Homo sapiens: one gene and its partner. The protein of the gene in region 1 interacts with the protein of each later gene in a biochemical or structural test. Each region holds a gene or a part of one and is shown in the gene's direction. Other genes may lie near its edges.

What was found.
Region 2: the proteins of H2AC25 (region 1) and RNF168 form a complex in vitro, tested with the Homo sapiens proteins (one study listed by IntAct).

What each region holds. Positions count from the first base shown.
Region 1 is NC_000001.11:228,456,603-228,461,953, reverse strand, and holds H2AC25 (histone H2A type 3), read left to right. Parts: upstream 1-4,080; 5' UTR 4,081-4,136; coding exon 4,137-4,529; 3' UTR 4,530-4,590; downstream 4,591-5,351. Other genes in the region: H2BC26 (histone H2B type 3-B), read right to left, coding at 3,444-3,824. UniProt on the Homo sapiens protein: Core component of nucleosome. Nucleosomes wrap and compact DNA into chromatin, limiting DNA accessibility to the cellular machineries which require DNA as a template.
Region 2 is NC_000003.12:196,486,544-196,493,830, reverse strand, and holds part of RNF168 (E3 ubiquitin-protein ligase RNF168), read left to right. Parts: intron 1-5,147; coding exon 5,148-5,224; intron 5,225-6,252; coding exon 6,253-6,432; intron 6,433-7,287. UniProt on the Homo sapiens protein: E3 ubiquitin-protein ligase required for accumulation of repair proteins to sites of DNA damage. Acts with UBE2N/UBC13 to amplify the RNF8-dependent histone ubiquitination.

The sequences.
Region 1 (5,351 bases):
ATTCCCTTAGTCTCTGTGGATTCTCACATATTTGATGTGCACTGCCTTCATTTATCATTAACATTTGTCTTTCTCTGTTGTAACACTATAATTAGAGAAATGGGTTCTGGACACGATTGCTCTGAATTTTCTCCATTATAAAATCTTAGTAGCAAGGATCCTGTTTTACCTTCTTTGCCTCTCCCTTAACAGATCCCTGTCCTAGGAGAGACGGACAAATCCCATTCATTCTGGGCCTGGGGGTGCTAATGTAGCAGGAAAAGACAGCCTGTTTCTACTTCAAGTTTGTGCCAGGGGAATCAGAAGGACTGAGACATGAATTGACTGACGTTTGACATTATCCATCACAAAATGCCTTCTTAGAGAATTACACTTGGAAAATGTCATGAAATGTTCATCTTGTGCCTTGATTTGATCTCTGGCACTAACCAGTGTTGTTGCCTTGTGCTAACACAATCATTCACTCTCTCTACTGGAGACTGGTTTCACTTTATTAAACCTATGTTTTAAGTTCATTAAGGTGGAGAACTATATGGGTCTGTGAGAGTAGTTTCACAGCTGCAAATGTTTAAGGTATTGACTTCCAATCCATGCTGGTAGGAGGCCGAGGGCTTGGATGTTCCAGTCATTGGGCACCTGTTTCATAGTGGAGAGGACTGGATTCAACAGCTTTTCATACAAATCCTATATTTCTTGACAGTACTAAGGGTGTTGACAAGTCCCACTTACTTTTGATGATGGATCACTGTTTAATATTTGGATTATAACTAGGGATGCAAAGAATTGAATAAAGTGCCTATGACAAAATTGTCATTCCTGTGTATTTTTTGTAAATTTTTTTTGGAGCATATATCAAAACAAAACAGAATGGAAATGACCCCGTGCACTGCTAGCATTGTAACCATATGGAAATGATCCCATGCTGTGCTAACACTGTAACAATATGAACACTGCATGTGTGCAGTCATTGAGGTGGAAAGGAGAGGAGAGAAGAGAGTGGGTGCACCATCCAGCTCATTAAGAGTCAGTTTCACTAAAAGTTTATCTGTTTGATAACATCAAATTATTTATGTTTTGAACAATTGTGTACTGTCGAGATGATTTTTCTTAACAGTGAGAGACTACCCAGAGGTATGCTTAAATTTCAATGTAGACTTTTTTGCAGAGAACAATAGACAAAACACTATTAAACATACAATAGATATATTATGGTAGGGTGAAATTGTAAGGCAAATGGAGAATGGAAATAGGCATTCAGGAGGAAAAAAATCATCTGAAACATCGCATTGACAAAGAAAAATTTGGTCATGTATTTTATGAATTGATTATACTATCATATTGATATTCCAAAAGGCACCTTGAGACTGATGTGAGAATTTTGATTTTTAAAAAGTTCCACGTTGGTATTTGTATCTTTGCAACTATTTTAATTGAAAATAAAAATATTTTAGATAGCTTTAAAACATGCGAGGTTCTCAAAGATTCTTGTAGAGGAATCACGCAGGAAAAAAAAGGTGGGGAATAGGGGACAAAGCCGTTTTGGTCGAGGATGTTCACGGTGACCTTTCTTTCCCCATCCCAGGCACGCGACGGGTTCCCTTTGGAGAAATGACTTGGGGGAAAAATATTTTTCATTGAATTTTATTTAAAAATTATTTCTCGGCCAGGAGAAGTGGCTCACGCCTGTAATCCCAGCACTTTGGGAGGCCGAGGAGGGTGGATCACGAGGTCAAGAGATCGAGACCATCCTGGCCAACATGGTGAAACCCCGTCTCTACTAAAAATTAAAAAAATTAGCTGGGCGTGGGTGGCGCACGCCTGTAGTCCCAGCTACTCGGGAGGCTGAGGCAGGAGAATCGCTTGAACCCGGGAGGCCGATGTTGCAGTGAGCAGAGATCGCGCCATTGCACTCCAGCCTGGGCGACAGAGCAAGACTCCGTCTCAAAAAAAAAAAAAATTATTTCTCATTTAACTTTATTGAATTTTTATTCCCTGCTGGAAATGGTGACACAAACGCTCAGTACTTCGAATTTTCACAACGGTTTGAGGAAGCAATTACTGGAAATCTTCTTTTTCTAAAGAAGAAAAGCCAAGTCATGAAAACGTAAACGATGCCCTTTCCAAAGTGAAAACTCTTCGTGCCAAAGAGCTTTCCTGCGCCAAAATGGCACTCCCCAAATAAATGCCGTGAATTTGGAGGGGGTAGGAAAGGAATTCTGCGTTGCTAACGCCTCGCAGAAAATAATGTGGCTAAAGAGGGAGGCAGCTACATTTGCTCAGAAAAAGGGAATTCTTTTCCTCCTAAATTAACCCCTTCCCCCACCCCCACTCCCATAAGGGTTAAAGTTACCGGCAGCTGGGGTCGCTTATTACATCCGGCTCCCCCGCGCAGGACGCTGCTTTGACGCCGTGCTTCGATTCGGTATCAAACATCCTGCCATCGCGGTATCCTGCCAGGAAAATATCCTCCCGGAATGTTCATTGCTTAAATCTAAACATGTCTGTCTGGTCCAGGCAGGGATGGAAAAGTCTTAAGCAAATGCAGAGCCAGGCACCACCGCCAGGGGAAAGTGACAACACCCATGGCCTCAGAGCCCGTGGTCTTGCGCCACGTCTGGCCTCGCCCATGGGGGGCGGGTAGGGTTGGGGAGGTTGGCACAGGGTCTTTTGGGGGGAGGTGACCCGCACTCCTCACCTGCACGGCGCACGCCAACCTCATTTGGACCCGGTCCTGAACCGGGCGCAAGCGCTCAACATCCAGGAATGCACCACTTGCTTATAAAAGACATTTGGGGCCAGGTGCGGTGGTTCACGCCTGTAATCCCAGCACTTTGGGAGGCAGAGGCGGATGGATCACCAGGTCAGAAGATCGAGACTATCCTGGCCAACATGGTGAAACCCCGTCTCTACTAAAAATACAAAAAATTAGCCAGGCGTGGTGGGGCGTGCCTGTAATCCCAGCTACTCGTAAGGCTGAGGCAGGAGAATCGCTTGAACCCAGGAGGCGGAGGTTGCAGTGAGCCCAGATTGCGCCACTGCACGCCAGCCTAGAGACAGAGCGAGACTTCTTCTAGAAAAAAAAAAAAAAAAAAAGAAAGAAAGAAAAAAAAAAGAAATCTCGTCGTGAGTTAATAGCTCTGCGCGGAGGGAGGGGATGGAGAGGGGGTCCTTGATCGCCTCCCAACATTACTGAGCTACATCACCTGAGCAGTTTCTACCCCGATTTCTGTAACGAGCAGTTTTTCTCGTTCTGTGCCGGCGCGCGCGCGCACACACACACACACACACACACACACACGGCTCAGATTCGGCCGCACCCGGCAACCGCTAGGGTGCATGGAGACACATTAGGTTACATAACCCTTCACCGTGTTCGAAACCCTTTCTTGATCGTGTGGGTGGCTCTGAAAAGAGCCTTTGGGTTCAGGACGCCGAGGAACGCCTCACTTGGAGCTGGTGTACTTGGTGACAGCCTTGGTGCCCTCGGACACGGCGTGCTTGGCCAGCTCGCCGGGCAGCAGCAGGCGAACGGCCGTCTGCACTTCGCGGGACGTGATGGTGGAGCGCTTGTTGTAGTGTGCCAGGCGGGAGGCCTCGCTGGCGATGCGCTCGAAGATGTCATTGACGAAGGAGTTCATGATGCCCATGGCCTTGGACGAGATGCCGGTGTCGGGGTGCACCTGCTTCAGCACCTTGTACACGTAGATAGAATAGCTCTCCTTGCGGCCGCGCTTGCGCTTCTTGCCGTCCTTCTTCTGTGCCTTGGTGACAGCCTTTTTAGAACCCTTCTTGGGCGCAGGAGCCGATTTGGACGGGTCTGGCATGATGGCTGAGTCTCTCCAAACAGAAACGCGCGGCGCTCGGAGTAACTCTATTTGTACGTTTTGTATTCAAATGAAGGCTCAGGATTTGCTCACTTCTGATTGGATCAAACGTTGTTCTACGTCATCGCTGGGAAAGGAATACGCAAATTAGGAGTGCCAGGTTCTTTTTCTGATTGGCTACCATAGCCATCCAATCGAACGCCGCGGTCTAGCCTACCTCTGTACCATACATAAGGGCTCGCTGGCCTTCACTGCCCTCTTGTTTTTAGTCTCGCTTTTCGGTTGCCGTTGTCTTTTTTCCTTGACTCGGAAATGTCCGGTCGTGGTAAGCAGGGTGGCAAGGCGCGCGCCAAGGCTAAGTCGCGCTCGTCGCGCGCGGGGCTGCAGTTCCCCGTGGGCCGCGTGCACCGGTTGCTCCGCAAGGGCAACTATTCGGAGCGCGTGGGCGCCGGCGCCCCGGTCTATCTGGCCGCGGTGCTCGAGTACTTGACTGCCGAGATCCTGGAGCTTGCCGGCAACGCGGCGCGCGACAACAAGAAGACGCGCATCATCCCGCGCCACCTGCAGCTGGCCATCCGCAACGACGAGGAGCTCAACAAGCTGCTGGGCCGCGTGACCATCGCGCAGGGTGGCGTCCTGCCCAACATCCAGGCCGTACTGCTGCCCAAGAAGACGGAGAGCCACCACAAGGCCAAGGGCAAGTGAGGCCGCCCGCCGCCCCCGGGGCCCCTTTGATGGACATAAAGGCTCTTTTCAGAGCCACCTACTATCTCGAGAAAAGAGCCGCACTGATCCTGCAGTTCTTTATAGGCCGGAGGCCTGATCACCCTAGGCTCATGAATGAGCGCAGTGGCCATGGGGAAGGGCGCAACGGGAACCGAGACCCTGGGGACTGATTGGGCTGCATACTTGCGAGGTGGGCAACGTGTTCTGTTAACAACAGGGAACCCTCGTCCACAGGTGGCCACCCCTTGCTCTTGAGTCCCACCCAAAACCTCTAGTAGGGTTTTAATAACGCTCACCGTAAAGGTGTCTTCATAATTACTAGTGACAAGTTCTCTTGACTCTAGCAAGGTTCCCGTGTGGTCATCAAGTACAGAATGCAATTTCTTAATGATTTATCTGATATTAAAAGTATTTATGATCTCTAAGTAGTTTGCACTTTAATTCTGAAGAGTAAGTCTATGGATTTCTATTTAAATTGCTAAGTTTTAACAATGTGAGCTCCACCAGTGTTAAGATTTAATTTATTTGGCTGGGAATTCTAAAGGTCATGAGGAAAGTTTCAGTACTTAAAAGGAACCAGATTAGTAGATGCTGAAAGGTATAAACCTTTTAAGAAGACTTAATTTGGAATAGGATAATTATTTAAAGGAATTTAGTTTGTTTAATTCGGGTTGGTCAAACATTAATCAAAGATCCCCTTAAATTGATTGCTAAAATTGGAGAACAAAATAATTTGTACACTGTTTTTGAAAAGGAAAACTAAATTTGCGAGTTAAGCAAATTTAAAATGAGTATTGTTAG
Region 2 (7,287 bases), on another chromosome or scaffold:
CAAATGGAAGGCTGGGCACGGTGGCTCACACCTGTAATCCTGGCACTTTGGAAGGCAGGTGGATCACCTGAGGTCAGGAGTTCAAGACCAGCCTGGCCAACATGGTAAAACCCCCGTCTCTACTAAAATTACAAAAAATTAGCTGGGCGTGGTGGGACATGCCTGTAATCCCAGCTACTCAGGAGGCTGAGGCAGGAGAATTGCTTGAACCCGGGAGGTGGAGGCTGCAGTTACCTGAGATTGCGCCATTGTACTCCAGCCTGGGCAACAAGAGCGAAACTCCGTCAAAGAAGAAAAAGAAATAGCAAATGGACTGGATGCAGTGGCTCACACCTGTTATCCCAGTGCTTCAGGAGGCTAGGGCAGGAGAATCGCTTCAGCCAAGGGGTTGGAGGCTGCAGTGAGCTATGATCCCGCCACTGAACTCCAGCCTGGGCAAGAGTGAGATCTTGTTTCCAAAAACAAAAGAAAAAGGCAAATGAAGACAATTTTAACTTGTGTCTGCAGTTGAATAACTCACTGATCTTAATTTAGATTCAGTTTATGTAGAAATAAGTAAACTTTAAAAATCTGTCATTCCACGGTTTAACAAAAGTTCAGCTCTCTGCTTGCTGTAGTTGGGCATCTTCTGTAAATCGCACGTGCCTTTCCTTTGCCTGTTGTGGTTTTTAATTGATCTGTGGAAGTTCTAGTTATATTCTGGACACTAATTCTCTGGTGATTTATGTATTTGCAAATAACTTCTAGTTTGTTTTTAACTTTGTGATGTCTTTCATCACATGGAAGTTTTAATTGTTTTGGAATTTATCTCATATGTTCTTCTTAGTCGTTTATAGTTTTGTTTTTTTCCATTTTTTAATCCACCTTGAATTCGAGTATTGTATGAGGTAGGCATCTTAACTCCCCCTGCCCTTGATTGCCACTTAATAGCCACACTACTTGGTAGTAATACAGCCACATTGATATACGTACTATTTCACTAATCATATGCTTATTTTCCAGAGCAATTTGGGGCTATTTATTTATTTTATTTATTTATTTATTTATTTATTTGAGATGGAGTCTCTCTCTGTCACCCAGGCTGGAGTGCAATGGTGCGATCTTGGCTCACTGCAACCTCTGCCTCTCGGGTTCAAGCGATTCTCCTGTCTCAGCCTCTTGAGTAGCTGGGATTACAGGCGTGCACCACCACACGTGGCTAATTTTTGTATTTTTAGTAGACATAGGGTTATTTGCCTTGTTGGCCAGGCTGGTTTTGAACTCCTGACCTCAAGTGATCCGCCTGCCTCCACCTCCCAAAGTGCCGGGATTACAGGCATGAGCCATGGCACCTTGCCTGGGCTTTTTATTTTTTAACTATCTCTTTATCAGTAGCTGTGTCAGTACCACACATGCTTAGTTTAATTCTGCTTAATGATATGTTTTGCTTTCTAGTATAATACATCTGTCTTATTATTGTTTTCCTAAATTAGCTACTTAAAAAAAATTTTTTTGAACAAAGATGGGGTCTTGCTATGTTGCCCAGGCTGGTCTTGATAGCCTGAGCTCAAGTGGTCCTCCTGCCTCAGCCTTCCAAAGTGCTGGGATTACAGGCATGAGCCACTGTGCCCAGCCTCTTAGCTACTATTTTATTGTATCTAATGTGTAAAGTGATTTACTTTTTTTCCAGTTTTATTGTAAAAGATACATAACATAAAATCCGCCATGTTAACCATTTTTAAATGGACAGTTGCGTGACATGAAGTACATTCATGTTTTTGTGCAGCCGTCACCACCATTCATCTCTGAACTTTCTCATCTTCCACGCTTGAAACTGCCCATTAAACAATAATTAATTCCCCATTCACCCCTCCCCTGGCTGCTGGCGACCTCCATTCTTTCTGCCTCTACGGGTTTAATTGCTCTAGGTGTCTCGTACGAGTGGAACCCCACACAGTGTCTGTCCTTTGGTGACTGGCTGTTTCACGCAGCGTAGTGTCTTGAAGGTCCATCGTGTTCTAGCACGTGTCCATTCCATTTCCTTTTTTGGCCGCATACTCCATTATGTGTGTGTATATATCTTAATGGATGACTATTATAAAAAAAAAACCAAGTGTTGGCTGTCCTCTGAAGCGGTATCTCCGTACTCAGGATTTGCACTTCCCTAATGACTAGTAATGTTGAACATGTGTTTTTGTTTGTTTGTGAGACGGAGCCTCCCTCTGTCGCCCAGGCTGGAGTGCAGTGGCGTGATCTCGGCTCACTGCAAGCTCCGCCTCCCGGGTTCAAGCAATTCTTCTGTGTCAGCCTCTCGAGTAGTTGGAATTACAGGTGCCTGCCACCACTCCCGGCTTTTTGTATTTTTTGGTAGAGACGGGTTTCACCGTGTTGGTCAGGCTGGTCTCAAACTCTTGACCTCAAGTGATCCACCTGCCTCGGCCTCCCAAAATGCTGTGATTACAGGCATGAGCCACTGTGCCCGGCCTACTGTCAGTTGTTTTATTTGGGTTTTTTGTTTGTTTCTTTGTTTGTTTGTTTTGAGACGGAATCTCCCTCTGTCGTCCAGGCTGGAGTGTAGTGGTGCAATGTCGGCTCACTGCAGCCTCCGCCTCCCGGGTTCAAGCTATTCTACTGCCTCAGCCTCCCGAGTAGCTGAGACTACAGGTGCGTGCCACCACGCCTGGCTAATTTTTGTATTCTTAGTATAGACGGGGTTTCACCATATTGGCCAGGCTGGTCTCGAACTCCTGACCTCATGATCCGCCTGCCTCAGCCTCCCAAAGTGCTGGGATTACAGGCGTGAGCCACCGCTCCCAGCTTACTTTAATTTTTTAAATGAAAATAGTTTGACTCTGCAGTTTCCCTGAAAAAAAGTCTCAGATACCTCCAGGGTTTCGTAGATTCTACTTTAAGACTTGCTGATCTAGGTCTCAGTTTAAGCCAGCTGATTATCCTTCTACTTTTTAAGGAGCCTTATATATGTCTCTCCTGTGTATACCATTGTATTGTCTTGAATAGATCCTCCTTAGTGACTAAAATAAATGAGAATTCAGCATACTGCATCCCTAATTGTTTTGGAGTTACATCACTGTTTTTTAGTCTCTCTGTTGCAGATTTTTCAAACTGCTGGCCTGCAGGCCATAGGAATCCTGTGTGCATGTTTTTTGTGACCCATCCAATGCCACTATTTAAGTTGGAAGATTTCATATTAACATCTTGATTGCTGGATTTTCTTTTTTTTTTTCTTTTTACTTGGATAAATTTATGGGGTGCAAGGGTAATTTTGTTACATGTATAGATTGCACAGTGGCGAAGTCAGGGCTCTTTAGGGTATCTGCTACCCAAATAATGTACATTGTACCCATGAAGTCATCTCTCACCATCCACCCCTGCCGCCTCTGGATTTTCTTGAGAAAGCAAAAAATATGGCACGGACAGGCCTGAGTTTCCTGGTAGTCGTAGTCAGCTGGAGTTGAGTAGCAGCTGCCCCTTGAAACAGACAGATGCGTTCTCTTTTTTGGATGTTCCCTTTTTACACTTTATAAAACAGTGTCTTGTTTTATAGAATAAAATTCTCATCAGATTTGTTGAGGATACATACCCACATTTAGGTTATTTTCTGACCCAGAATTATCTTTCAACTCCAGGGTGATGATTTTTTCTCTTTGTATAGCTTACTGTTTCCCTAGTCCTGCAGATGTATTTCAAATGTCTGACGATCCTTGGATTAGCTTTTAGGTTTGAGAATGAGGCCCAGGAGAAAAGCTCTGTGTATGTGGAAGGGTATTGGTGATGGGCAGACGTTGAGTTCAAGCCGATGGAAACCTGGCCTTTGTGCTTTGCCATCCCTAACTGCCCGATCGCAGAGGACTTTGCTCTGGGTCACCACCTATTACATTAGCTGCTCTGGCTCTCTCTAGATCTGTTTCTTTAAAGAAATATGCGTGTGTGCACCTGCACCCATATCCAGGGAGAAATGCCGGTAAGTCGAGGATTCTGATTTAACAGCTTATAAATCTCGAGTTCTGTTTTCAGTCCCACGGTTACTCACTCTGGACTCTATGAGCCTCTCTCTAGGCAAATAGGAGGCAGATTCCCTTCTAATTCTACCTCAGCTGTAGTCTTCCCTTTCAAGGATTTCTTTTCCTTCATTTCTGCTGTATCAATTATCTCTATTTCATTGCCTTCCCATTTTCTAGAAATTTGTTAAAAATTTTTTAACTGGAGCCGGGCACGGTGGCTCACGCCTGTAGTCCCAGCACTTTGGGAGGCTGAGGTGAGCAGATTGCCCGACATTAGGAGTTCGAAACCAGCCTGGCCAACATGGCAAAAACCGGTCTGTATTAAAAATACAAAAATTAGCTGGGCATGGTTGGGCATGCCTGTGATCCCAGCTACTCAGGACACTGAGGCACAATAATTGTTTGAACCCGGGAGGCGGAGGTTGCAGTGAGCTGAGATTGCACCACTGCACTCCAGCCTGGGTGACAGAGCAAGACTCTGTCTCAAAAAAAAAAAACATTTTTTTTTAATCAGTTAACCTCCTCTGCTAATTTCTGCTGTTGTAGGATTACAGTTTTTAAAAATTCCTTTACTGTTATTTTAATGGAGTTTAGAGGAAGGGTTAAGTATATGCATTCATATGCCATTTCAAACCCAAAACCCTAAACCTCTGGCCTCACAAAATGGAATTCCAGGCCGGGCGTGGTGGCTCACACCTGTAATCGCAGCACTTTGGGAGGCCAAGGCGGGTGGATCACTTGAGGTCAGGAGCTCGAGACCAGCCTGGCCAATGTGGTGAAACCCTGACTCTACCAAAAATATAAAAAATTAGCTGGGTGTGGTGGCGCATGCCTGTAATCCCAGCTGCTCAGGAGAAGGCTGAGGCAGGAGAATCGCTTGAACCTGGGAGGTGGAGGTTGCAGTGAGCCGAGACTGTGCCACTGCACTCCAGCCTGGGCAGCAGAGCAAGGCTCTGTCTCAAAAAAAATAAATAAAATAAATCTAAAATAAATAAATAAAATAAATGTTAAAAATGGAATTCCAAAAGGAGATATTGCTGCAGTTATTAATAGTTGTATATTTTAATTTTTCGTTTTAATGGAAGACCAAAGTTACCATAAAATTGTGTTGCCTATAATGTTATTTTCTTTTTTGATATGAAATAGCTGATGACTATCAGCCAGTTCGTCTGCTCAGTAAACCTGGGGAACTGAGAAGAGAATATGAAGAGGAAATAAGCAAGGTAGGTGCTAAATAGTTTTTTTTTTTGGAATATTTCTCTGCTGTGTTTTTAGTTTCAGATTTTAATTTAGTTTTTTGTGCTTATATAACTAGTATATCTTGAAATATGGATAATTTTTTTTTTTTGAGATGGAGTCTCACTCTGTCACCCAGGCTGGAGTGCAGTGGCGCAATCTCGGCTCACTGCAACCTCCACCTCCCGGGTTCATGCCATTCTCCTGCCTCAGCCTCCCGAGTAGCTGGGACTACAGGCGCCCGCCACTACGCCTGGCTAATTTTTTTGTATTTTTAGTAGAGATGGGGTTTCACAGTGTTCACCAGGATGGTCTCGATCTCCTGACCTTGTGATCCGCCCGCCTCGGCCTCCCAAAGTGCTGGGATTATAGGTGTGAGCCACTGTGCCTGGCCAAAATATGGATAATTTTAATGTACTTTATAAGGGCTTTGTTTTTTGCTGTAATTTACTTCTACATAATTAATGCTCTTATGTGATAGTGTTCCCTAAGCATTTACATATGAAGAAAATTTTTTAATTCTTCTTTTTCCTAATTTAATCCATACCAGGATATATTTTTATTTCCCCAAAGTTTTGAGCTTAAAGTAAAAGGGTGGTAGAGTGTGAGTTTAGATGAGGAAAGGTTAAAGGGCTAGCTGTGAAGTTCCTAAATAGGAAAAGTACCTAAAAAGCAGTGTTTATAGTGAAGCATTATGTTTTAATTACATATGAAGTTATACATAAATAGAGATTTTTCTCTTTTTTTGTTAGTCTTCAAAATTTTGTGTATAATTTTCACTTGTAATACATCTCAGGCTAGGTGTGGAGGCTCACACCTATAATTTCAGTGCTTTGGGAGGCTGAGATGGGACAGCTATCTTGCAGGAATCTACTTCTCCAGATTTGTACTTCATTTGAGATCATTTAAATTTCTGCCAATTTGTTCTTTTTCTACTTTTCTATTCTTGTTATGAAATATTGCAAGTATACCAAAACGTTCAGAGAAGGATTGCTCTTTATTAATCACTTTTAAGGTGGCGGCAGAGCGACGGGCCAGCGAGGAAGAAGAAAACAAAGCCAGTGAAGAATACATACAGAGGTTGTTGGCAGAGGAGGAAGAAGAGGAAAAAAGACAGGCAGAAAAAAGGCGAAGAGCGATGGAAGAACAACTGAAAAGTGATGAGGAACTGGCAAGAAAGCTAAGCATTGATATTGTAAGTTTTAGGAGGGAACGCTAAGGTATGGTCATCCCTTGGTATGCGCTGCTGCAGAACCCGCTCATGGGAAGAGTCAGCTCCTTGTATTTCCAGGTTCTGCATCCCACAAATATTGTCTTTTCCACCCCAGGCTGGTTGGATTTGAGTGTTTGGAACCTGCTGATACGGAAAGCTAACTATTAACATTCCGATTGCTTTGACTGTGGTTTTCAAAGAACAGAAGAGATGGCGTTGCCATAATTAGAAGCTATTGATAACATTTTTGCTTTACTTAAAGTAAAATTGTTTTGCATATTGTTACATATTTGCTCTAATCCAGGTTTTTGGGGTTTTTTGTTTTTTGAGACAGGTCTTACTCTGTCATGCAGGTTGGAGTGCAGTGGCACAATCACGACTCACTGCAGCCTCGACGGCCGGGCTCCGGTGATCCTTCCAACCTCCCGAGTAGCTGGGACTACAGGCTGGCACTACCATGCCTGGCTACTTTTTTGTGGAGACAGGGCTTTGCCATGTTTCCTGAACTGGTGTCGAGCTCCTGGGCTCAAGCCGTCCATCTGCCTCGGCGTCTCAAAGTGCTGGGTTTGTGGCGTGAGCCACCGCAAGTTGTTTAACAACTTTTTTATATGTAGGAAAGCTATTCAGTGAAGAATGAAAGCTTCCTTTTTCCTTCTTCCACCTCTCCACTCCCGTTCCTTTTCCATTTATATCAGTCTCTATCCCCAAAGGTAACCACTATTAACAGTTTCTTACAACTTTTTTCTTGCCAGGGTGCGATGGCTCGGGCCTGTAATCCCAGTACATTGGGAAGCTGAGGCGAGAGGATCGCTTGAGCCCAGGAGTTTGAGACCAGCC